3 separate regions of the Homo sapiens genome follow, and all the other regions are linked to region 3. The links come from fine-mapping of genetic effects on gene expression. A gene starts in region 3. Each other region holds a variant in brackets. All regions are shown on one strand. Distances are from middle to middle.

Region 1 (8,181 bases), 24 kb before region 3:
GTCTGCCTCTGCCCTTACCAGAGGGGCAGAAAAGGAAATTGTTTCCTCTGCAGTGTTGATCTCTCACTTACAAGCAGCAACGTACGAGGGAGAACATGTGTACTGGAGCCAGAAAGGACTGGGTTTAAATACCAGCTGTTTCTTCACTTGCTTTGCGGTCTTGAGGATAACGTTACTTACCCTCACTATGCCTCAATTTCCTTCTCTGAGAAAAAAGAGGTAGCAATGCATATTTCATGTGTGTTTACATGGATTACAAGGGATGGCATGTTTTACACAACACATGTAAAAGTGTTTAATACTATTTGCTATGTAGATGACAGACTTCCATTCAACAGTTTTCACTAGAGTTGATGTATGTGAGTTAAAGCCACCTTCTACAATGGCTAGTTATTAGCTTGCCACATAACAATGGGCAAAGAGTATGCAAGCGTGTATTCAAGGATAGTATAAATATATAAAAACAGGGTGCAAAATAGAACCACATAACCCTAAACCAGTGGCACACAATTATTATTTTATTTTTAGCAGGGACAAGGCCTCCCTCTGTTATCCAGGCTGGAGTGTAGTGTGGCATGATCTTGGCTCACTGCAACCTTCGCCTCCCAGGCTTAAGTGATCCTCACATCTCAGCCACCTGAGTAGCTGGGACTACAGGCATGCACCATCACACCTGGCAAATTTTTGTATTTTTTGTAGAGATGGGATTTCATCATGTTGGCCAGGCTGGTCTTGAACTCTTGGGCTCAACCAGTTTTCCCGCTTCAGCATCCCAAAGTGCTGGGATTACAGGCACAACCACAATTGTTTTTTCTACCTCAATGTACCGGGGGATGCAAACCATTCCAGCTGACAATAGCTTCATACAAGAGCAATAGAAAAGGAGTGTATTAATACAATTTGCAAAGCTCCTGGTATTTTTTGCCTTCTTATGATACACATTTCCTTCCAATCTATAACTCAACTCCTATAGCCCATCCTCAGTCCCAGCTGAGAATCACAGGCTTCACAACAACTAAGGCAAAATACTGAATTTATTCAGTTGATTTGACCAACCACATTGGACAAAAGTATTGGGTTTTATTTGCATAATGTAAAAACATACTTTACATAAGACTACTCACATACTTTACAATGTTACAAATATATATATGTATGAAAGATTCATGAAGGCATTTGATATAAAACATACACAGTATGCTATTTTAATATACAAATGCTTAAAAGAAAATTTAGTCATAAGAATTACAAAATCATCAATAATTTACAAAAGTTTTCATTTTTCTTAAAGGTCACATTCTCATCCTTTGGGATGTACAAAAATTATGTGGTTTACACAGTTTTATCCACATTCAAAACATCACGTTTTGAATGTCTTCAGCATAGCATGTACAGTATAAAATGTTTCCATAGGAACACAAAAGAAACTGTCACTAGTGGCCTGCTGTCAGATGGCTTCTAATTCATCAGTTAGCCATTTTTAGGACACTAGTCCAGCTTATTGCTACAATCTTCAAGTTGTTCTAGTCACCCAAATTATAATGAATTCAATGTATACCAGAATTTACCAATAAAGGCTCAAAGAGTTATATAATATACACCAATATACACAAAACAGCTATTCTGAGTAAAATGAATATTCCATACTTAAATAAGAACCAAGAATAGTAATTTTAGGCTACTCTATTATCCTTGTGATTGGTATTTTTAAAATTTTGAGCAAAGTGCACAGTGAATGAAACAGTCAGCAGACACGATCCTTCTGTGAACTCTCAAATTCCTGCCTTAGAATCACGTCACCTGAGAAATGAGAACCTTGAGACCTGGTGCATATCAAATAGCTTCACATGTCAAACACACAGGGCCGCTTGGAGGCACATTCACGGGTCACAGGAGGTCACACTGCTCCTTCGAAAATGGCACCATTCACTGTACAGGGCCCCTGTGTAGAGGCAGCAGAACCAGCCTCCAGGAGATCAATGCTGTCTTAATTTAGAGCAAACATGGCATCCTTCAGCCATATTCAAGCGTTGGTGGTCCCCGAACAAGATTGAAGTAGCCAGCCAGAGCGCCGAGGTCGATGTAGAGAGAGCGTTGCCTCTTGAGCATCTCAGATTCCTCGGTGCTTCCTGTGCACGAAGAATCTGAAAAGGAAAACATTACAAAGTAAGTAACAAGAAAACGTGTCAAATGATAAATACCTGTTCCTTCTGCAGTGAAATAAATCTTTGGGGCCTAATAAAACAGTGTCTTAAGCGTGAAAGATGGGTCTTTGAACACTATGGCTAAGTTCACATAATATGACATAGAACAAAAAGTTCAAACAGGAGTCAATGGAGACAAGAAATTAGTTAGAAATCCTGGCATATTTTTCCAACAGCCAGATTGCTCTCTTTAAATACACAAAAGTTAGACAAGCAGCAAAGAAATATAAACAAGCGCACCAGGCTTGACATCTCGGTTTGGACCTAAATGGATTAAGAATGCCACAGACTTTTAATAAAAATGGAAATCCCTCTTTATGCATATTCAATGCTCCTGGAAAGCATACTGACTTTCCTAAGTGGGAAAAATTTACAACTGGCAAGATTTTAAGCCAAGGAAGATGGAAATGCAAGTTGACTTCAAACTGAGTATTTTATCTGTGCAGGGCAGTGCCATGATGTTCCCCCACCAAGGACTGGGGTGGCTTAATATAAATGAGTTAGGCTGGGCATGGTTGCTCACGCCTGTAATCCCCACACTTTGGGAGGCCAAGGCAGGTGGATTGCCTGAGGTCAGGAGTTCGAGACCAGCCTGGCCAACACGGTGAAACCCCATCTCTACTAAAAATACAAAAATTAGCCAGACGTGGTGGTGGGCACCTGTAATCCCAGCTACTCAGGAGGCTGAGGCATGAGAATCACTTGAAACCGGGAGGCAGAGGTTGCAGTGACCCAAGATCATGCCACTGCACTCCAGCCTCGGCAACAGAGCAAGACTCCATCTCAAAAAAAAAGAAAAAAAAAGTGAGTTAAGAAGAACCAACTGCAAAGCTGTCATGCTCAATCTGTTTTCAAAGACAAAAGTTGTAAAAAAGCAAGTTGCAAAAAAGCAAGTCAGAAGCATTTTCCAGTGACTGTGCTACCTACACTTGCACTGAAAATCTGTTATAATTTGGTGCTAAATTAGCCAATTTAAAAAAAAAAACATGCTTCTGCTAATCTTGCTGAAATTTCTCAAGCAAGGTATGGTACTCAAGAAGTCATTTCCTTTTTTTCCAAGTGCTTTCATGAACTAC[A/G]TCAGAGGTTTGATGTGGACAGAAAGAGAAGGGAAGTAAGTGTGCGGCACACAGCAGGGTGTCCCTACCAGCAATGTTCTCAGGAAGTTCCAGCTCCTTCCTACTCAGCAGCCTCTTGCGCTCCAAGAGGGCAGAGTCCAGACTCTGACAGCGTGGCTGATCCTCTCTGGGCGGGTTCAGGGCCTCATGTTTTAGTAGGTCTGCGGCTCTTGGGCGGTGATTGGGGTTTCTCTCCAGGGAAGCTTCTATCAGCTCTCTCATCCCTGGACTGCAGTCATCTGCAATGTCTTCCAGTGGAGGTGCTTGCTTGTGGATCTATCAACAAACCAGCTCTCTTAGCATCAAAGGTATGGTGATACACCCTCAACAGCAAAAGCATGCTAGTACCAGGACCTAGAAAGTAATCCGTTTTCCACCACATGCCCTGCAACGAATGCAGTTCAGCCCTTAAGCAAGCAAGCTTCCCTTTAATTTCTTTTTTCTTTTCCTTTTGAGACAGGGTCTTTGCTCTGTCATCCAGGCTGGAGTACAGTGGCACCAACACAACTCACCGTAGCCTCGAACTCCTGGGCTCAAGTGATCCTCTCACCTCAGCCTCCCATGCAACTGGGACCACAGGGCATACACCACCACACCTAGCTAATTTTTTTAATTTTTTGTAGCGATGGGGTCTTGCTTTGTTGCCCAGGCTGGTCTTGAATTTCTGGGCTCAAGAGATCCTTTTGTTTTGGCTTTCTAAAGTGCTGAGATTACAGGCGTGAGCCACCGTGCTTGGCCCACTTTAATTTCTAAAGGATACCAGGTTAAACCCATCTTCTGATTTAATGTTACAAAAGATAAGTGATAGGTTTGAATGTCAGTGACAGCTTCAAATCAGTGTCCCAAAAGTCACTGTGCAGTAACAGGGAAGTGTCTGCTCCTGAATTTATCAACAGTAAAATGGGAATTGCATGTTCCACTACAAGCCACACTGGTGTGAACATTAATAATAAAAAATGTTTTAACTGTTCAAAGAACACATACAACTTCCTTTGCTGAAATATTTATGCTACTCTGATGCTACTAAGTAGTGTTGCATTATTACACATACAATGGAATAGCATAAATTATGCCCAATGCACATTTTAGTAAGCTCCCACTAAAATAGCTATGTTTTCTTTGCAAGAATGGAGCTTGCTTCTACATGGGAAGAACTTGTAGCTACCTGTCATTTCACCATTGCCTCATTCAGATGGGGGTGGTATAGAAGGCAGAGCAGTCCCTCCCAAGCCTGCGGGATGCATAACTCAACGCCCCCCCCCGCCGCCCCCAGCCCTGGTTGAACCCCACTTACTATGTACAGGTAGGAGGGATAGGCTGAGCGAGGGTAGCGCTTCACCCAGGGTGGGGTGCCCGTCTGCATGTGGATGAGCGTGGCCCCCAGGCTGTAGATGTCTGCTTTGGTTGAATGGCCCCTGCACAGGATGACCTCTGGGCTCATGTAAATCTGAAAAAGAAGTGGGAAACATTCAGCTTCATTCCCCTCCTTTGTGTGGGTTTCCATTTCCCTAATCCAGTTCTGGAAATTGGCTCATTTGCCTTAAACTAGGAGAATAATGCAGGCATTCCCCAGGAACCATGCAGCAATTGCTGGAGGTGTCCCTGCAGTCTGATGAAGAACACCTGGCCGGGCGCGGTGGCTCACACCTATAATCCCAGCTGAGGTGGGCGGATCAGGAGTTCAAAACCAGCCTGGTCTCTACTAAAAATACAAAAATCAGCTGGGCATGGTGATGGGCACCTGTAATCCCATCTACTTGGGAGGCTGAGGCAAGGAGAATCGCTTGAGCTCGGAAGGCGGAGGCTGCTGTGAGCCGAGATCGCACCACTGCACTCCAGCCTGGGAGACAGAGCGAGACTCAGTCTCAAAAAACAAAACAAAACAAAACAAAACACCACCTTTTTCTGGTTGATCTGGTGGCAAAGAGCCTAGAACCAGGAATCTATCAGGGACTCCCACTCATCAAAGTTCTGCAGTACACTGATCAGGTGTAGCTAAGTTTTCAACTAAAACGCCAATTCCTTTTATATTTAAATGAACTACAAACAGACTTCTTTATCTGTTTGTCATTACACTGCTAACCTTCTAAATATCTGCAATGATAAAAGGTGATAGAAGTCTATAGGGTATTAACACAAATTTCTTGAAAGGGAAAAACTTAAAAAATAAAGTGTAATATTGTAGAAGTGATTCTAAAGAGTCATTTTTACAAACTATCTGTTATTTTTACCTACTATGTAGCCCAGTGACTAAATATTAAATGCAGCCATATTAACATTGTATAAGTTATATTTGGTCTCATGAGTCCATGCTGAATAAACAGGGCTGGTTTTATAAATAGTTTCTCTAACGAGCATTTATTTCTAAACTTAAGAAAGAAACAAAGAGAGGTGGGGCATGGTGGCTCATGTCTATAATCTCAGCACTTTGGCTTTTTTTTTTTTTCGAGATGGGGTCTCCCTCTGTCACCCAGGCTGGAATGCAATGGTGCGATCTCGGTTCACTGCAACCTCTGCCTCCCGGGTTCAAGCTATTCTCCTGCTTCGGCCTCCCAACTAGCTGGGATTACAGGCATGTGCTACCACGCCTGGCTAATTTTTGTATTTTTAGTAGAGATGGGGTTTCACCATGTTGGCCAGGCTGGTCTCGAACTCCTGACCTCGTGATCCACCTGCCTCGGCCTCCCAAAGTGTGGGGATTACAGGCGTGAGCCACTGAATCTCAGCACTTTGGAAGGCCGAGGCAGGAAGATTGCTTGAGCCCAGGAGTTTGAGACTAGTCTGGACAAGATGGAGACCCCCCATCTTTACAAATTAATTAGTTACCTAATTTAATTAAACATTTTTTTAAAAAGGAACAGAGCAAACACTGGTGACCAGTGATTTGTATTCATGGCTGGTGCAGACATATAGTAGTTAATATCCTGATTATCAGTATTTCGCTTGAAACAGCTTGTACACTGTCTGCCATGTGAATAAGAGAATGGAGGTCAGTGTTTCCGGAACACATTTCAGGGTAAGTAATTAGAGAACTAGCTTACAAAAACCAGAGAAACTGCCCAGTCTCCCCACCCTAACCCTGCTCAACTCCTTCCTGCAAGCCACTTCCGGGCCAGCTTCCTTTTGCTCTCAGCAAACAGGTGAAACTGAGCTCCCGTTCTCAAGCTTTCCCTGCAGCAGAGCCAGAGGACTTTCCAGAAGGACTTTGCTACTAAATATATCACAAACTTAAAAAATTAATGCACAACATTGTACCTATAGTCAACAATAGTGTATTGTATACTTAAAAATGTGTTGAGAGGGTAGAGTTCATGCTAAGTGTTCTTACCACAATCAAATAAAAAAGAAAAAGAAATGCAATGGGTATTATTAACTGTCCATAGAGGATGCCTATCTTCTCTCCTGTACCCCCTCCTCCCTGCCAATAAAGCAAGGATTGGGCGGAGTGCCCACTGCTGGTGTAGCCCACAGGGGTTGTGCAGAGGTGGCTCTGCAGGTTCTATGTGACTGCACGCCTAGGCAGCCTGGGGGGATGGAACATCTGTAAGCCTGGTGGCCTGGGTGCTGCCACTCAGGTAGAAACCCCAGAGCTTCCTGGCTCGGAGCTCTTGTTCCTCAAGCTCTACCAACTACCAGTTAGATCAGGGAGCAGCAGGGCATAATGTTCGAGCACTCTGGCTGATTAGAAGGCATGAAACAGCCCTGGTGGGACCAACACAGGGCTCTCTGAGAGTTCTGCACCCTCGGGGCAGGGCACTGGAGCAAGAGAAAACCTTGATGTCAGCGATCGAACCCTTCACCTTTCAATATGTTTATTAGAAAGGGAAAGAGACCGTGTGTGTGCGTATATGTGCATGTGATGACTATATGTTAACTTACAAAGGTAAAACCAAGCAGACTTAGAAGGATTTTTCAAAAAGGACCAAGTTCTAAAAGTAATTCTGATTTGTTATTCGCATTCACTATGTATTCTCTCTCTGTACCTTGCAACTCAAAAACAGTCTATTCTGTATATGCTGGATTAACCCTGGATGTGTATTACATGGTTACAATAGAATGCTCTGAATACCAATGCTTAGAGAGAGCAATCAAACAGGGGTAACCAGGGTTTGCATTTGGGAGCTATACTGCAGAAATCAGAAATTGTCTATGACTGTGCAGTAGCCACATGATCAAATTCTAACATCAGCCAGTCTGCACAGTTGACTAATTAGATCTCCTGGCTCTTTAAGTAGGAAGGGTAAAAGCAAGCTTGTTGAAAGGTTTCACTGGTCACTTCACAACTTTGTTCATTATCAAACTTCAACTCGTGTGTACTAGGCAGATATTAAATGCAGGCTGATTAGAAGAGAGTTTATATTTATAAACACCAAGGCACAGTTTTGCACTTCACAAAAAGCAATTTGCATTTGCCAAAAAAAACCTGATCCAAATACTACTCAGGAGTAAAATATGTTATTATCTCATATCCATGCATTCCGCTAGACAGCCCCAGAAAGAACACTTCTTTCTCCAATGTTGCAAAATGTTCAACTTCACCACATTGCCAGGAAGAGAAAAGTATTTTCCATCTTTAATACCATAAATAGTTTGTTTTTCAAACTGGTTCCAGGAAAAAGGGTGGTGGAATATTACATATCTGAACTCCTGACTAATGCCAAATATGCTGAAACATTTTCCAAAGAAAACATGTCGTAAGCATTAAGTCTTATTAGACCTCACACTTTGGTAAAGTATTCTTAAGATCTGGGGACTAAGCATTCTTAAAAAAAAAAAAAAAGTACAGCTTCCCTTCTGAATATTGTTCTGCTCAAAGACAACCGTCAAGAATCCTCGCTCGAGCATTTTCAATAATAACTTCA
Region 2 (8,181 bases), 60 kb before region 3:
TACTTTTAGTTCTTTAAGGAATCTACATACTGTGTTCCATAGTGGTTGTACTAATTTACATTTTCATGGCTGAATACTCTTAATTCCATTTTACAGGTGAGGAATCTAAGATTCAAGGGGTTAAAATCACACTGTAGTAAGCCTTGGATCTGACTTTGTCCAATTCCAAAGTTTGTGACTCTTTGTTCTATATCAAACTGACTTCCAATTGCCTCATTTCCTTCAAATCCATCCAGAGTTCTGTTTTTCAAGAATTCTGTACTTGTGCATCAGAGTGTCCTAGACAAGGGGGTAGCTTGGCCTATTGCTCTCTGGGCACGCAATGATAGCATCGCACCAAAGTTGCTTGGATGACAGTGTTTGTCTCACATTCTCTGGCCAAATGGGCCTCCATGGGAGCATTTTGTTAAATTTTTAGGACAAATCCTCTAGGCTGAAAGCTTTATGGTGTCCCTATTGCTTATCAATCTATCTTAAACTTCTTATATCTCATTTTCAAAAATACCTATAACTTGAATTCATCCATCCTCATCCTCCCATTCTGCACTATAATGTAATAAGCTTTTCTTCAGTTTCTTTTGAGCCATATTGTAGTAGAAATAGGGCTGGGGCCAGGCACAGTGGCTCACACCTGTCATCTCAATACTTTGGGAGGCCAAGGCATGTGAACTGCTTGAGGCCAGGAGTTTGAGACTAGCCTGGGGAACAGAGTGAGACCCCATCTCTACAAAAAGAAAGAAAATAAGTAATAGGGCTGAGCCAGCTATCAGAAGCACCCATGCTCTTGCTCTGTTTTTGACTCTTAGTGGCCCTGGGTCTTTTAGGCCATCAGCTTACCTTCTTGAAAGACTGTCTCTACAGCTGTGAATTAACAGCCTTCTACTAAATCCTCTGAGAAGTCTCTTTCTGCTTTGAAATTCAGTGACTCTTTTACCTCATAGCATATTCTCAGTTCAGTGTTCAGGGTTTTACAGCCACAAGACTCGACAAACAGCGCTAAACTATTATAATTAGTTCAAATTGCTATTAGTTCTAAATAGCTCATTAAAAGTGCAGCAGTTTAGAATTAGCATCGTTTTTTTCAGATTAAGACCTCTCATTTCTCCAAAGTCTTAAGTGTTAATACTGTAGTGTTTTGAGATTGGCAGGGAAAGCAAGGGAAGGCAGGGAAGGAAGTGGTTAGGGTAAGGCGCTTGGAGTACATTCAAACAGCTCAACAGTGGCCAGTGCAGGTTGGGGAAATTTCTCTCTCTGGCCCTGCAAACAGAACTGCACGCTAGAGTGATTCCCCCTGCATACTCACTCCAATGGTGTCTTATTGTGCCCACTGGCTAGAACCCAGTTGTGGTCTTGGATTGACCAAATGATTTATATCAGGTGGCCAGAGAGCTGAGGTCTCACGCCCTGTTTTTTCCTTTTTCTTTTTTGAGAGGGAGTCTTGCTCTGTTGCCCAGGCTGGAGTGCAGTGGCGCAATCTCGGCTCACTGCAACCTTCACCTCCTGGGTTCAAGCGATTCTCCTGCCTCAACCTCCTGAGTAGCTGGGATTACAGGCACCTGCCACCATGCCCGGCTAATTTTTGTCTTTTAGTAGAGATGGGGTTTCACTATGTAGGTCAAGCTGGTCTCGAACTCCTGATCTCAAATGATCCCACCACCTCAGCCTGCCAAAGTGCTGGGATTACAGGTGTGAACCTCTGTGCCCGGCCACACCCCCTTTTCTCTATTTGAAATGGAATCTTAGCTTTTCAAGCAGTGAAACTTTGAACAAACTGTGGAACAAATCCAGAAGCTCATCTTATAAACTTACAACTTTCAAATATGCAAACAAATCAGTCTCTCCAAGCAAGAGTGTGATGTGCTTGCATTCTTAGTATAGCAGAACTTGGAGCATCTTCCTCTACGCAGAGTCCAGGGCTGCATTATTTCAGGGACCTTTTATGTACTTTAGCTAATCGAGCAAAACTCTTCCCAAGGTTTGCCAATGTCTTTGTCTGTTTGGGTTGCAATAACAAGATACTACAGATCTGGCAGCTTATAAACAACAAGCATTTATTTCTCACAGTTTTGGAGGCTGGGAGGTCTAAGATCAAGGTGCCAGTAGATTCAGTGTCTGGTGAGGGCCCATTTCCTTGTTTATAGACATCCAGTCTTCTCTGTTAGGGTTCCACACTCACAACTTAATCACCTCCCAAAGGCCCCATCTTCAAATACCACTACATTGGGGATTCAGTTTCAACATGTGAACCGCTCATTGGGTGGGTGAGGAGGGCATAAACATTCCATCTTTAGCAACCCACGTTCAATATTTTATACTCTGGGAGAATTAGAGAATGTAGACCAGTGAGGATGATGGAGAAAAGGGGAATCCACAGAACTCTGGATAGCACAGAGTGCAGTTCTGTTTGCAGAGCACAGAGCCAGCCAAGTCCCGGACCACTGTGGGAGCCAGTCACCCTCTAGGCATCTGGAAGCTGCTTCTAACTGATCTATATGAAGGCTGGCAGAAGTCTGAGATGCAAAAAGCTGACAGCAACATCCCCTTTGCCCTGGACCAAACTTACAGACAGGTGGAGCATACAGTCACCTACACAGTGTGCTTTGAGGGGCTTGGGAGTCTTGCATTCTTCCTAGAGAATGCTTTTCCCTACAATGCCTGAAATTTTGGCATCCACCATTCATTCCCCCTAGTCAGGCATTGCCTTCACTCCAGTTTTCATTCAAATTATACATATTCTTGAGAAATATATCACACTCCCTCCCTCCCTGGCTACTTTACTATAAGTCAAGTAAGTTGTACCAAGAAACAGGACAAGAAAGTGAGAATGGAGGCTGGGCGCAGTGGCTCATGTCTTTGGGTGGCCAAGGCAGGTGGACCACGAGGTCAGGAGTTCGAGATCAGCCTGGCCAACATGGTGAAACCCTGTCTCTACTAAAGATACAAAAAATTAGCTGGGTGTGGTGGCAGGTGCCTGTAATCCCAGCTACTCTGGAGGCTGGGGCAGGAGAATCACTTGAACCCAGGAGGCGGAGGTTGCAGTGAGCCAAGATCAGGCCATTGCACTCCAGCCTGGGTGATAGGGCGAGACTCCATCTAAAAAAAAAAAAAAGTAAGAATGGAGATCAGATAGGGGTTGGGGTAGGTGGTGTCTCATGTCTTAACCGGGGAAAAACCTTGTTCTCTATCATAAATTAGCCCGGGACCAGCTCCATCCCTATGACACACACTTTACTCCCTCCAAAAGGGAAAATCTGAGATCATAGGTTTGTTTTCTTGAGTCATTGAAGTATCTTCCGAAGAGGGCCTGGATTTGGGGGTGAAAAAAACTATGTCAAAGGAAAGAGAGCAAACGAGAAAAACAGTGTATAGTACTTTGCCTGTCACTTCACAGGTATTTGATAAATAAACATTCCCTTACTTCCTTTCTAGTGCTTCGATGTCTCTACTGTATTAATTTCTCCTCACTTAATTCCATTCTCTAAAAGTGTAGATTTCATGCCTGAAATGATCAGAAATTCCCAGACATTCATTAGAAATCCATCTTCAAGAAGGGACTTTTGTCATGAATATTAGCAGGTTCCTATACCTGTTCAACATAGCCTTGGCTGGTTCCAGCATAGAGTTTTATGGCAGGCGGGAGATCAAGATAGTCAGCAAAACAGTGAGGTCAAAAAAACACTCACATTGGCTGGGCACAGTGGCTCACACCTGTGATCCCAGCACTTTGGGAGGCCAAGGCAGGCAGATTTCTTGAGGTCAGGAGTTGGAGACCAGCAGCAATTCTCCTGCCTCAGCCTGCCAAGTAGCTGGGCCTACAGGTGCACGCCATCATGCCAGGCTAATTTTTGTATTTTTAGTAGAGACAGGATTTCACCATATTGGTCAGACTGGTCTCTAACTCCTGACCTCATGATCCGATGGCCTCGGCCTCCCAAAGTGCTGGGATTACAGGCACGAGCCACGGCGCCGGGCCTATTTATTTATGTGTTTATTTGTTTATCTATTTGAGATGGGCTCACTCTGTCACCCAGGCTGGAGTGCAGTGGTACAACCATAGCTCACTGCAGCCTCAACCTCTTGGGTTCAAGCAATCCTCCCACCTCAGCTTCCCAAGTAGCTAAGACTACAGATGTGAGCCACCATACTCGGCCTACTTTTTGGCTTTAAATTACTTTGACACATGTTGAGTGAACGTGCTGTCTTCACTAATCCCATCAAACAAAGAAGTTCTCACCAACTGATTTCGTTCAAATTCCCATGACACAAGAAACTATAATTTTCATTCTTTTCCCATGTTGTGTCTTGAGTTTTCCAGCCCTGCAGCCTGGGCCTTTAGCCTTCATGGTACATACACAGTCCCATTTTCAGTTCCTTTCTCTCACCACTTCCTGGGGTCTCTGTTTTTTCAATTCTTGGCTTCACTTTTTCTGTCCTTTCTACATGTTTCTGCTTCGGTGCCACTTCCTGTATTTCCATGTTTTACTCTTGCTTTCCTCCCTTTATTTTCTCAGATATTCATTGATATATCAATTCGTTGACTATATATCATGTGCTTGGCACAGTAATAAGTGCAGGGGAGCCAGAAATGGATGGCACAGCCTTTCCTTAAGGGACTCATCATTATGGGTGACAGAAGAAGAAACTATCTTGCTCCCTTGACCCAGACCTTGCTGGCCCAAATCCATTTGTCATCATCCCTGCAGAGCTCTGGTCCCTGGCAGTGACACACCCTGACATGACTG[T/C]CTGCAGCGAGTGACTCAAGCCCTGGATTCTGCCCAGTCTGGTTCTGTCTCCATGACCCACTCTGTGTCGCCCTCTGTGACACTAGCCTCCTCCAAGGTCATCCTTGCTGTGCTGGGGAACACATGTCCTTGTGGTTCTGAGCTCACCAGTGAGTCCACCCATTCTGTCCTCAGCAGTTTTCTTGTGGCTTCTCATTTTTTTCCACACCCTTTGTCTGTCCCTGATAACTTCCTCTTTTTTCCCATCAACACTGGACAGTAGTTTCATTTTGTTCTCTTTCTTCCTAGAGGTGTCCCTTCCCTCCTCCCCTCCGCTCCCTGCTCCCTGGGGCTTCCTGCACTCATCGGAGCAGAAGTCACCATTCCTCTTCCGCATAGGAACCTCAAGACCCAATTCTCCCTTCTATGTGACACATCAAGTTTTCTGTCCACTAGGGGACCACAGAATTTACCATTCAAACCAGATACTTCTGAGCGTGAAAGGGGGTGCTATTAATAATTACACCAACATAGTAGGTGTAAACCACGACTGTCCCAAATGGGATCTGATGGCCATCCCACTGTTTGCAGACGTATGACCTACTAGACCACTGACATCTCATACACTTTTCTTTTGGGAGATGCTTTTATGACCTAATCCAGCAGAATTGCAGAGCTATTCCTGATTGCGTGTCACACCAGACGGCCTCTTGAGTCATATGTATTGCATGTCTCTGACTGTCCCCTAGATCAGCTAAAGCCCTCCTCCGAATGACAAGCCCTCTAAATGAGCAGTCAAACCTGCAATCATATTCATGGTCATAGTTACTGAAGTTGCAGTTTAGACAGCAGCTACCTTTCCCCCCAGCCCCCTGCCCAGCTGTCTCCAATGCCTCCCTTACCCAAATATAAACCTCTGCTGTGGTCAAGGAAATGGCAGCATCACTACTGTGCCCAGCGTTCATGGTAGTGTTTACCAAAGATCAAAGGAACTGATCAAAGGAACTGATCAAAGCCCCGATCAAAGCCCCAAATTTCCAGCTTAATCGAGTGTCTTCCTTTTAGGGCTCCTGCTGTGACCTATGGCAATACTCACCAGGATACTTCCAAAGCCAAGAGCAAGCACTCATGGGCCACAAATACCCAGATCCTCACTAGCCCCCTTCTGCTATAGGGAGCATGCCTCTCTTCCTCTGCCAGCTAGATTATTTTTGGCAAAAGCTCACACTGTGATTTCACCAGCCTGGGTATATTGATTTGATGATAAGAGACAGAGCCCCAGCACAAGTGAAATTAGCCCAGAAGGGGAATTCATTGACTCACGGGTCCAAGAAAATTGTTTTGGGTTTTATTGTTTTTTGGGGGTTTTTTTGAGACAGAGTCTAGCTCTGTCGCCCAGGCTGGAGTGCAGTGGCATGATCTTGGCTCACTGCAACCTCCACCTCCCAGATTCAAGCAATTCTCCTGCCTCAGCCTCCTGCGTAGCTGGGACTACAGGCATGCACCACCATGCCCAGCTTATTTTTTGTATTTTCAGTAGAGACAGGGCTTCACCAGGCTGTCCAGGCTGGTCTCGATCTCCTGACCTCGTGATCCTCCTGCCTTGGCCTCCCAAAGTGCTGGGATTATAGGCATGAGCCACTGCACCCGGCCTGAGATTTTGTTGTTGTTGTCATTTGTTTGTTTGTTTTGAGACAGAGTCTTAACTCATCTCCCAGGCTGGAGTGCATTCGCATGATCATGGCTCATTGCAGCCTCAACCTCCTGGGCTCAAGCGATCCTCCCATTTCAGCTACTTGAGTAGCTGGGACCACAAGGATGTGTGACTCCATGCCCAGCTAATTTTTTTATTGTTCATAGAGATGGGGTCTCACTATGTTGCCCAGGCTTTTTTTTATTGAGCAAGAAAATTGTTGATGAGGGAGACAGGGATGCTGCTTAGCCTGAGAAAAGACCAGAACCAGAGATCTGAGGCCCATCCAGACTCCGTCTGCATCTTTTGCCCTGTTTCTGGTCATCAGCCTAAGTCTCACTCCTGAATGAACAGCATGGCAGGAAATGTGGTTCCTGAGCTCTGAAGTTTTGCACATTAGTGTCCTCTGTGTGTGTGTGAGTGTGTGTGTGTGTGAGAGTGTGTGTCTGCACGCACACGCACATGAGTGCAGCCTAGGGTATATTTCCATCATTTCCTAGGTGTGAATTGGGGGCATGACAACCAGGAGTCTTTAGGTCACACTTGGCTAGAAGGATACAGCAGCTCCTGATGTATATCCTGTCTGGATCATGGATGAGATGCAGTGTTTGGATATAGGAGAGAGGTCTCTAAACTGTCCAATTAGGAAGCTCTCCACAGGAAGCAGGTTTATGGGTGTCATATGCACACTGGTGGTGCTATTGGTTTTTCAGCTCAGATTCTTCTGTCAGTTACTGTTGATGCCTGGGAAAGGAAGAACTTCTTATTTTGCTTTATTAATGTGCTTGGTGAATGTCTCGTGCAACTTTGTGCATTTGGGACAGAGATACCTGACTTCATAGCATTGGGTCTCCAGCCGGGATCTGACTCCCCATACAGACCTAAGCTCATCAGTCAGACCCTGAATCAGAAGTACAGGGGAAGTTTCTAGAAGAGTGGAGTTGCTGGATCGAGTTCCCCAAATCCTTTAACAGTGAGTTTCCTGGGCCCCCTGAACCACCTACGTAAGTTAGGGAAACCCATCCAGGACCCTCATCTTTTCCATCCCGTAGCCATCCTCATTCTCCTGCCTGGCATGCGGCAGCTGTCAGTAAACACTCCAGCTCTCTTTTTGTTATTGTTATTATTGTTGTTATTTTAAGATAGTCCTTACAACTTGTCATTACATAAGTGCCCCAGCCTAGCATCAAACAAGCCAGAAACTGCCCCTGACATTCATCTCCACCCAGTTTCTTCCTGCACAGCAAACAACTCATTTCCACTCCCTCGCCTGTTTCTCCAGCTCTTCCCTGGGCTGGGCTGTGTCCCTTGCTTTCTGGGTTAGTCATATGCGTGTCAACTTTCAGTTGAGTTTCGCCACATGAGGAGATTTCTTCATCTCCATTCAACCCCCAAGTTTCCTTCACCTTTGACACCATTCTTTCTGACACCTCCAACATGTTTTTTCAGACAAATTCTGATTCTCTCTTCTACCAGGCTGCAAGCATCCTTCTCTAAGTTTCTCTTGGGGTGTTTTCTGGAGCCTTGCTGCTCATGTGCCCTTTGCTCCATACAACCCATCCTCCACGCACACCCTGCGGCCATCCCCACTCAATTTCCTTGGAACCCCCTTTCTACTCCTCTTTCATTCATTTCTTCTTTTTTTTTTTCGAGACGGAGTGTCTCCCTGTCACCCAGGCTGGAGTGCAGTGGCTTGATCTTGGCTCACTGCAACCTCCGCCTCCCGGGTTCAAGTGATTCTGCTTTCTCAGCCTCCAGAGTAGCTGG
Region 3 (8,181 bases):
GTCAACTGTGTGTATGAATTCAAGTTGACAGTGCAGAGTTGAAAGGGACCTAAGATAACCTTTAGTCCAGCTCACTTTGCAGAGGGAAACCTGAGATCCAGAGAGCTTACTCTTACTCACAGAGTCAGTGGTATCAGCTACAGGCACTGAAAACAAACTTTCACTAAACATACACACGAATCAAGAGCAGCTCAGAAATCTTTGAAGACCTTAGGCTACCGGCTCTTTAGGGCTTCCAACCTTACACAACCCAGCTATTCCCCCGAAGTGGCACCCTCCCTGCAAGAATCGCTATGGCTTTTTTATGCCTCTGGTGACTTTAAAGAAAAATAACCTCTTCACTAAATGCAGGAGCTAACTTGGCAAATAAAACTCAGGCCCTGAAAGCCAGAAGCTGGAAAAATGGATTTCAATCTACACAAATTTGATGGCAATAGGTCAAGTTTCAGGAATGATTCTTATGCAAATGAGTTAAACAGCTAATTGGAAGGATGACAGGAAACCTTGTTCTCCCAGTGATGAGTATGAGAAAGATGATGATACATTTAACCTATGATTCAGCTGTCCTCCCTTAGGACCAGAATTCTTTAATAGTGCAAAGCAAACATCTTGAGGGTCCCAGAAGATTAATATCTAAATAAATGGCCTTCTAGAAGCTGTGAGTAGTAGAAAGAAGCCAGGAAAGTCAAATTTATCATAAGCAAGTCCAAGTGACTATATTAACCAAAATTGCATTTCAGCTCTTATATACAAATCAGCTGCCACACTTGGAGATCTGTAGATGAGAAAAAGAAAGTAAAGCAAGGGTAAAAACTGACGTTGTTACTCAGGATTTTAGAACAACTCTGTTCTGAAGGAGAAAAGACAAAAGGCCCTAAGAGATCTAAGAGAATTTCAAGGCACATTGGTTTACTTAAATCACCGATTGCACTCCCAAAAGCATAGCCTCTTTCTGAAAGGTATTTCAAGTTCTGAGAAGCACAAGCCTTTAACACACAGGACACTCAGGGCTAAAGCCACGCACGTCTGATCAATCTGGAGCTTCATTTCAAAGCTCCAGGAAATGCTCCACTGCAGAGCCACCTGCACGCATGACCCAGCCATCTGCCTCTCAGTGAATTTCATTTGACAAAAGAACCATGCAATTTAGTGTCATCATTCACTTACTTGATGGTCATTTTCTGACGTATGAATTGTGTCTGAGGAAAGCAGTTTAGCATCCTGCAATCCAACATTCCTCTGGTCTCAGACTGCTTGGAGTCAAATCTCATTGCCTCCCCCCACACTCCCATTTACTGCTTGCATGACGTTGAGCAAGTAACGTAACCTCTCTCGACCTCAATTTTCCCCATCTGTAAAATGGAAGTAATAACAGCACCTACCTCATGAGGTGGTCGTGAGGATTAACAGAGTTCAAGCTCATAAAGTGCTCAGTGCAGTGTCAGGGGCATGGTAAATAAGCTGTGTCATTTTTAGCTGCTTTGTATGCATGAGTGAGAAAAGTACTGAGTCAGACTCCTGGCTTTGCAGATACTGCGTTAGCTTCCTTTCTTATCTGCAAACAAGATGTGGCTACCTATTCCCCTGGCTTCTTCGCGGTAAGAAGATTGCATCTAAAACAAGACATAAAGAGAGAGAAAAAAAAGGCAGAAACCTATGAAATGCTTTCATGGCTGTTATCACCACCGTGAAATCTAGAGTGAGGGGGCAGCTTCCCCTCCTGAGATCTTGTACATCTTCGAGGGAGATTGTGATTCAGGTTCTTGGAGTCTGCTGAGTTAGGAGAGCAACTTCTTAGATTAATGGAGGAACATTTGACTTCGGTTTTACTGAGCCGTTTAGTTGCAGTTTCTGCTTGTCGAATTTACTGGAAACACAGAGGTTAAAAAAAAAACAGCCTAATTTAGGGCCTCAGGGGTTGAAAGGATCCAAGTCTCCTGGACTTATTTATCAAACAGATGATTTGACAGAAAAAAAAAAAGTTCTCAGTACTAACATGACTCAAGAAAGAAAGAGGAAAAAAGTCCACACAGTTCAAATTCACTCTGCTGATCTGGGAAGACAAATTTTAGAGGATTTTTTTTTTTTTTATAGTAGTAGTGGTATTCTTTTTATTCTTTATTCTTTTATTTTTTTAATTGGGGGGTTTTCCTGTGAGGACTGGAGATTCTAAAAGACAAATCCTAAAAGAGCTGTAAGACAAGATGTTAGTTTTTAAACCCTGCAGAAAAGTCTCAGGCATTTATATGTAAAACCCAAGAGCTTGAACACACACAACCACACCCCTAAACTGTGAGTTGCCTGGAAAGGGGAGAGGGAGGGAAGCAGGACCCGGGAGGTGGAGGAGTGTCTGACGCTGAGACTTTTCTCAGTGCCTGCAGTAATTCCTTAGCAACACAGGGCCCCTGTCACGCAAATCTACGTTCCCCAGAAACCCTGCTGACCAGTTCGCCTGCTAACTGCGCCTGCAAAAAGCCTCAGCACTTTCCAGCCTTAATTAAGCACACAATATGCTAATGGTTTCTGAGTTATTCATGATCTGTGCCCATCTAGAGAAAGTTCAGATTGTGAAGGTATTCTAGTTTGGCAATAAAGACGTTTAGTATAAGATGATTTTTCCCTTGACACAGTTTACAATAAAAGTCCTCATAAAATTCCTACTTCCTAACCAAACAGAAAATTATGCCAGCTTTTGGAATTGGAGAGATGTGCAAATACAGTCAAAATTAGTTACACTGAATTATTTCAGAAATCAGCAATAAAATCACGAGGAAATTCTCTTCCTAAACATTAACATAATACTCTTGGCTGCCTCCATATACAGAAACAAAATGTGAGTGTTTCCTGGCAAGTGTGAATGAAAATGGCCAGCATAACAGCATATGCTTCTGCCTAACAAAGAATGACTATTACTTGTGTTATTTCTCATTTAAAATATTTTTTTAGGCCGGGCACAGTGGCTCATGCCTGTAATCTCAGCACTTTGGGAGGCCAAGGAGGGTGCATCACCTGAGGTCAGGAGTTCAAGACCAGCCTGGCCAACATGGTGAAACCCTGTCTCTACAAAAATTAGCCGGGCGTGGCGGCGGGCGCCTGTAATCCCAGCTACTCGGGAGGCTGAGGCAAGAGAATCGCTTGAACCCGGGAGGTGGAGGTTGCAGTGAGCCGAGATCGCGCCATTGCGCTCCAGCCTGGGCGACAAGAGTGAAACCCCCTCTCAAAAAAAATTTAAAAATTATATATACATATATACATATGTGTGCCAAAATAGTACATTCTCCCTCAGGGCACATTTCTGACTATGTTTTTGCTCTCAAAAAGCCCCGGATTATGCGTTTCAGGCGTATGGAAGGAAGGACCGACACTCTGCTTCAAAACCTCTACATGCCTCAACGTTCCCATTTGCTTTACACGACAAAGTCCTCATGGGCCGTATGCCAGACGTCCTGCACACAAACCTCAATCCGTCGCAGAGAGCTGGGGGCGTCAGCTGGAAGTGGATTACACTCTCCTTGGCACAAACGACTCAGGCCACAGGTATGTAAAGCAACTGCAAGAGCCTTTCTGTCCCTGTTTTTTATCAAGAGCAGCCTTTAATCTTGTCTTCCCAAAAGTGAAATAGACAAGCATCGCAACGTTTCTCTCTTACAGGCAGCCGGTGGCCTTCCCCTGTTAACTATGGAGACAATCCCTAGGCGTCCTTCTCCGCCCAGAGCTAGAAAAATTTCAGAGTCCTGATCATGCACTATCGCTCGAAAACAACTTCCGTGAAAATAACTTTTTTTTTCTCCTAGTATTCTTTCTTAGACCAAAAGCCCAGCCTTCGTGTTCTGCTATGACCTCTTTAGTCATGGGATAGAGTCCGGGTTACAAACTTGAATTTAGTTCCAGCCATTCACAAGTCTCTGGGCTCCGCCAACCCACACTCCCACTCCTTTCCTCCTGGTTCTCTAAGTCAAGGGAGCCTAAAAGGCTTATAAATTATCAAAGCACCCAGCATTTGGGAGGATCGGGTCCTCCAGCCTCCGAGCTGCACTCACCGGGTCTCGGGCAGGGAGAGTGCGGCCGTCCAGGCGGCGTCGGCAGCGGGAGGCGCAGTGACAGCGGGTCCCCGCTTCCCCGCGCACTGCCCAGACCAGCACTGCCCTGGCGCTGCGGATACGGGAAGGAGGAGGAAGGGGGAGGAGTCGCGAGTCTGCACCCCGTGAGACCCTTGCGCAAGGTGCTTTCCAGCTGTGCCTGGTGCAGCCGGCGACCCGCGAGCGCAGCTGTGGGCACGCCCCCACCTCTTCCCACGCCAGAGTTTTCCCCTCTGCTGGGGGCACCCTCCATTTCTGCATGGGAATCCCCGGGGCACCCAGGCGGGACGCGACCCGAAAGACACGCCGGAGACCCCCAACCCTGGATTACCTGCGGCCTTGGCGCTCCCACGCCGGCCGAGCGCTCCAGCCGCGGCCCCCCGAAGGTTCGGTGCGATGCTGGCTGCAGGCCTGTGGGAGCCGAGCACGCCGGGCCACTGGGATCCGGCGGCGGCAGCGGCAGAAGCAGGAACCAGGGCGCCGGACCCCAGAGCGTGGCGCGCAGTCCAGAGCGGAGCGGACGAGTGAGACCCGCGTCGCCCGCACGCTCAGACCGCCCTGCTCTGCCCCTGACTCACGGCGTCTGAGCCTGCCCAGGGGCGGCGCAGCGGACGCCAGCCACCGCCTCCCCGACTTTTCCATTTCCCCTTTCTCTCCGTAAACAGAAAGAGACTGCCCGGTTGCAGGGTAAGCCAGAGCCCCCGCGCTGGGAAATTCCGCGTCTCCCCCCCACCCGCCACCCCGCCGCCCCTCATTTGCCCTCTGGGCGCCCGGGCGGAGCTGGAGGCGGGACTAGGGAGGAGCAGAGCGGCGCGCAGGGAGGAGCGCGGGACGTGAGCTGCGGCCCGAATCGAGAGCCTGGGACGGGGACGAGTTTTCCCCCGGGCCTGGTGACCCAAGGCGTCTTAGTGGCGGAGTTGCAAGAGGTGGTTGTGCCCTTCCCGGTCCCCAGGGAAGGTCGTATATCTTAGTGTACTCGCGCCCTCGGCGCTTCTCTGGAGTCCCAGGGTCCGGCGGGAGGGCACGCTCCCGGGGGGCGGCGGGGAGGGCAGTCACCAGACCTTTTTCCGCGCGCCCCACGCTCTGGGGTGGGGACAGAGGCGCCGTGTGCCCTCCCAGCAGTGCTGCGGGAAGCCGGGGAAGCTTCGGGGCTTCTTGGAACCGCGACTGTGGGTCCGATTGCTAGTAGCACGGCCCCGCCTCGCCCAGATTTCGCTTCAAATTCACACACAAAGAGGGCAGTGACCCGTGGTGCGCACGCACACATTCCAACTTAGAGATTTCCAAGAGGCTGCGGCAGGGTGGGCCCGGAACCTGGTTGTTGGGCGCTCGGCTGGGAGCCTGTGCACTCCGCCAGCAGAACCTGGTTTTCTTCTCTGCAGTCTTTATTAAAATTGGTTATTTTGCGGCACCGCCTCATTAGGAAGCGTACTTGTACTATCTCCCCGCTCCCGCCTACCGCTAACCCTCAGTCCTAGCTGCTCATCTGGGGTTTTCCTTCTAGAGTGTCAAGCTTTTACTCCAGGTGTAACCGGAAGAGAGTTCTAGAGAAAAGCGCCACTCTCCCGAAATCCACTCTGCGGGACATTCCCAATGCCCCGCCACCCCCTCCCCCTACATTTCCCACGTATCAAGCACCCACTAGGAACCAGGCATTCGGCTAGAGCGCGGAGAGCTAGGAGCCATGTAAGGTCGACATCCTCTCTCTCTCTCTCTCTCTCTCTCTCTCTCCCCCCCCACCTACGGCCCAGGAGGTGGGGTGTCCCAGGCACAACCCAGATTCAAACGCGGTCACACTCCAAGTCCACGCCCTATTCTTCCCAGTGCCCAGGTCCGTGCTCCCTCTGCAGTTTCTAGATTGCCTCCGCGCGGTTGCGCACGCCTGTAATCCCAGCGCTTTGGAGGCCGAGGCGGGAGGATCACTTGAGGTCAGGAGTTGGAGACCAGCCTGGGCAACATAGCTACCCCGTCTCTACAAAAAATCTAAAAATTAGCCAGGCATGGTGGCTCACGCGTGTCATCCTAGCTCCTCGGAAGCTGAGGTAGGGGGATCCCTTGAGCCCAGCAGTTCGAGTCTGCCGTGAGCTATGATTGCGCCATGGCACTCCAGCCTGGGCGACAGAGCGAGGCCTTGTCTCAAATTTAAAAAATAAAATAAAACAAAAAAATTTTTGAGACTGAGTTTCGTTCTTGTTGCCCAGGCTGGGGTGCAATGGAGCGATCTGGGCTCACCACAACCTCCGCCTCCCTGGTTCAAGCGATTCTCCTGCCTCAGCCTCCCGAGTAGCTGGGATTACAGGCATGCGCCACCACGCCCGGCTAATTTTGTATTTTTAGTAGAGATGGGGTTTCTCCATGTTGGTCAGGCTGGTCTCAAACTCCCGATATCAGGTGATTCGTCCGCCTCAGCCTCCCAAAGGGCTGGGATTACAGGCGTGAGCCACCGCGGCCAACCAAAAATAAAATTTAAAAAAAAAATTTGCCTTGTACCTTCTCTAGAGCCCTCCACATTTCTGCTATGGAAAATGAATTACAATACAACCCGAGGATGTATTGAGAGAATTGCTGGAGGAGATAGGTTAGTTGAGGTGACAAGCCAGGGGCTTTTTGCAGGACCTTAACTCGCAGACAACAAGCCCAGGTAGCAAATCCAACGTCGAGGGCCGATTGACTGAATGGGCACTGTCATCCGTCAAGTTATTTTAAATACGAGAGCGATTTAATTTATATTCATTCACCTCATGAAGCAGGGCTTTGCCATTCCCTCCAAATATCCAGGCAGTCCCTTGCACCTAGAGGAGAACCCCTTCCTGAACCCTCCGCCTTTCTGATCTTGGAGGGAGGGAAGGCAGCTTCCACCAACCCGGCAGCACTGACCCGGCAGAAGCAGCCTGGGCCGGGGTTGGGGAGGAGAAGCCCCGCTCGCTTGCGCGCCGGATGGGTGGAATTTGGCACTGGCTCAAGCGGGTTATCCCAGTCTCAGCTGAAGCCGAAGTTATCAGTACACTTTTGGCCTTTTCGCTGGAAACCAGGTTAGCACAGGTTGTTACCTCTGATTGTAACGTGAGAAACAGAGACGTCTCTTTCTCTACTGCCGTGTTTAGACAACAAAGGATGATCTTTACACGAGTTTTAAAAATAGAACCATGGAACCACTCCCCTCCCCACCCGCCTTGTGTGAGCTCATTAAAACCACACCTAATCTTCTGGGAACTGCATTATTAGCCTTACTTCCTACACAGAAGTCTCCCAAATATAGCTGCATTTTAGGGAGCTGGTGAAATGGCTGGTCTAGCAGGGTTCTCTCTTGCTTCTGGCTTAATCCAGAGCAGGTTCATCTGTTGGGGTAAATTAGAAGGTTTTACTTGAAAACGTATGTAGAGTTTTTAACAAGGAGGCCAAAAGGGAGAGAGCAACTGAAAAGAAAGAAAAAGTCTGTGGACTCCCTGTATGTATGTATGTATGTATGTATGTATGTATGTATGTATGTATGATGTATTTGAGACAGGTTCTGGATCTGTCGCCCTGGCTGGACTGCAGTGGGGCGATCTCAGCTCACTGCAACCTCCACCTCCCTGGCTCAAGTGATCCTCCCACCTCAGCCTCCCAGATAGCTGGAACTACAGGCGCATGCCACCACACCCGGCTAATTTTTGTATTTTGGGTAGCGTTAGAGACGGGGTTTTGCCATGTTGCCCAGGCTGGTCTCAAATTTCTGAGCTCAAGCGATCTGCCCGCCTCAGCCTCCCAAAGTACTGGGATTACAGGCGTGAGCCACCTTGCCTAGACTCCTTGCATTTTTCTGGTCTGGCTTTTTGTTTTTTATGCAGGCTTACAAAAACAATCCTGCTCTTCTAGGGGCGAGCTAAGTGAGTTTTAAACCTACCAATGAGAAGTCCCTTGAGCCACAGTGCACACAACCATAGGGGGTTATTCTGGAAGTGATCCTAAAGCACATTACGAAACAGCTCTCTAGAAGCTGTTTGAAGCAAGCAAAATGCATTTGCAAATAAGGCTGTAACCGATTGCAGTTTACCTGAAGAAGCTTGCTCCATCTCATAGGTTGGGACATTAATGGGTTTGTAATTTGTAGTTTGGAAAT

Alleles and levels. Alleles are on the strand shown, and positions count from the first base shown. SD is a standard deviation of normalised expression in the study named. Not every link is listed here.
In carriers of allele T in region 2, the expression in monocytes of the gene that starts at base 4,605 in region 3 tends to be higher than with C alone (moderate effect, 0.50 SD a copy in Quach 2016).

The links. PIP is the estimated chance that this variant, and not a neighbour inherited with it, causes the effect.
Region 1: its variant is fine-mapped to the expression of MAP3K8 in whole blood (TOPMed, PIP above 0.99). The same link has a PIP of 0.9 or more in neutrophils.
Region 2: its variant is fine-mapped to the expression of MAP3K8 in monocytes (Quach 2016, PIP 0.95).

What each region holds. Positions count from the first base shown.
Region 1 is chr10:30,454,669-30,462,849 of GRCh38, reverse strand. MAP3K8 (mitogen-activated protein kinase kinase kinase 8) reads right to left here. Exons shown (of 9, transcript NM_005204.4): 7 at 4,614-4,766; 8 at 3,349-3,595; 9 at 1,017-2,144. The coding sequence ends at 2,014. Among named protein-coding and RNA genes, the nearest start is that of MAP3K8, 25 kb to the right of the region's middle. The variant A/G (reference allele first, on the strand shown) is at 3,281.
Region 2 is chr10:30,490,958-30,499,138 of GRCh38, reverse strand. No RefSeq gene overlaps it. Among named protein-coding and RNA genes, the nearest start is that of MAP3K8, 61 kb to the right of the region's middle. The variant T/C (reference allele first, on the strand shown) is at 4,743.
Region 3 is chr10:30,430,608-30,438,788 of GRCh38, reverse strand. MAP3K8 (mitogen-activated protein kinase kinase kinase 8) reads right to left here and starts at 4,605. Exons shown (of 9, transcript NM_005204.4): 1 at 4,411-4,605; 2 at 1,383-1,613. RefSeq lists enhancers at 1,113-1,312, 2,926-3,015, 2,568-3,103, 3,104-3,641, 3,766-3,815 and 4 more and a silencer at 4,646-4,885.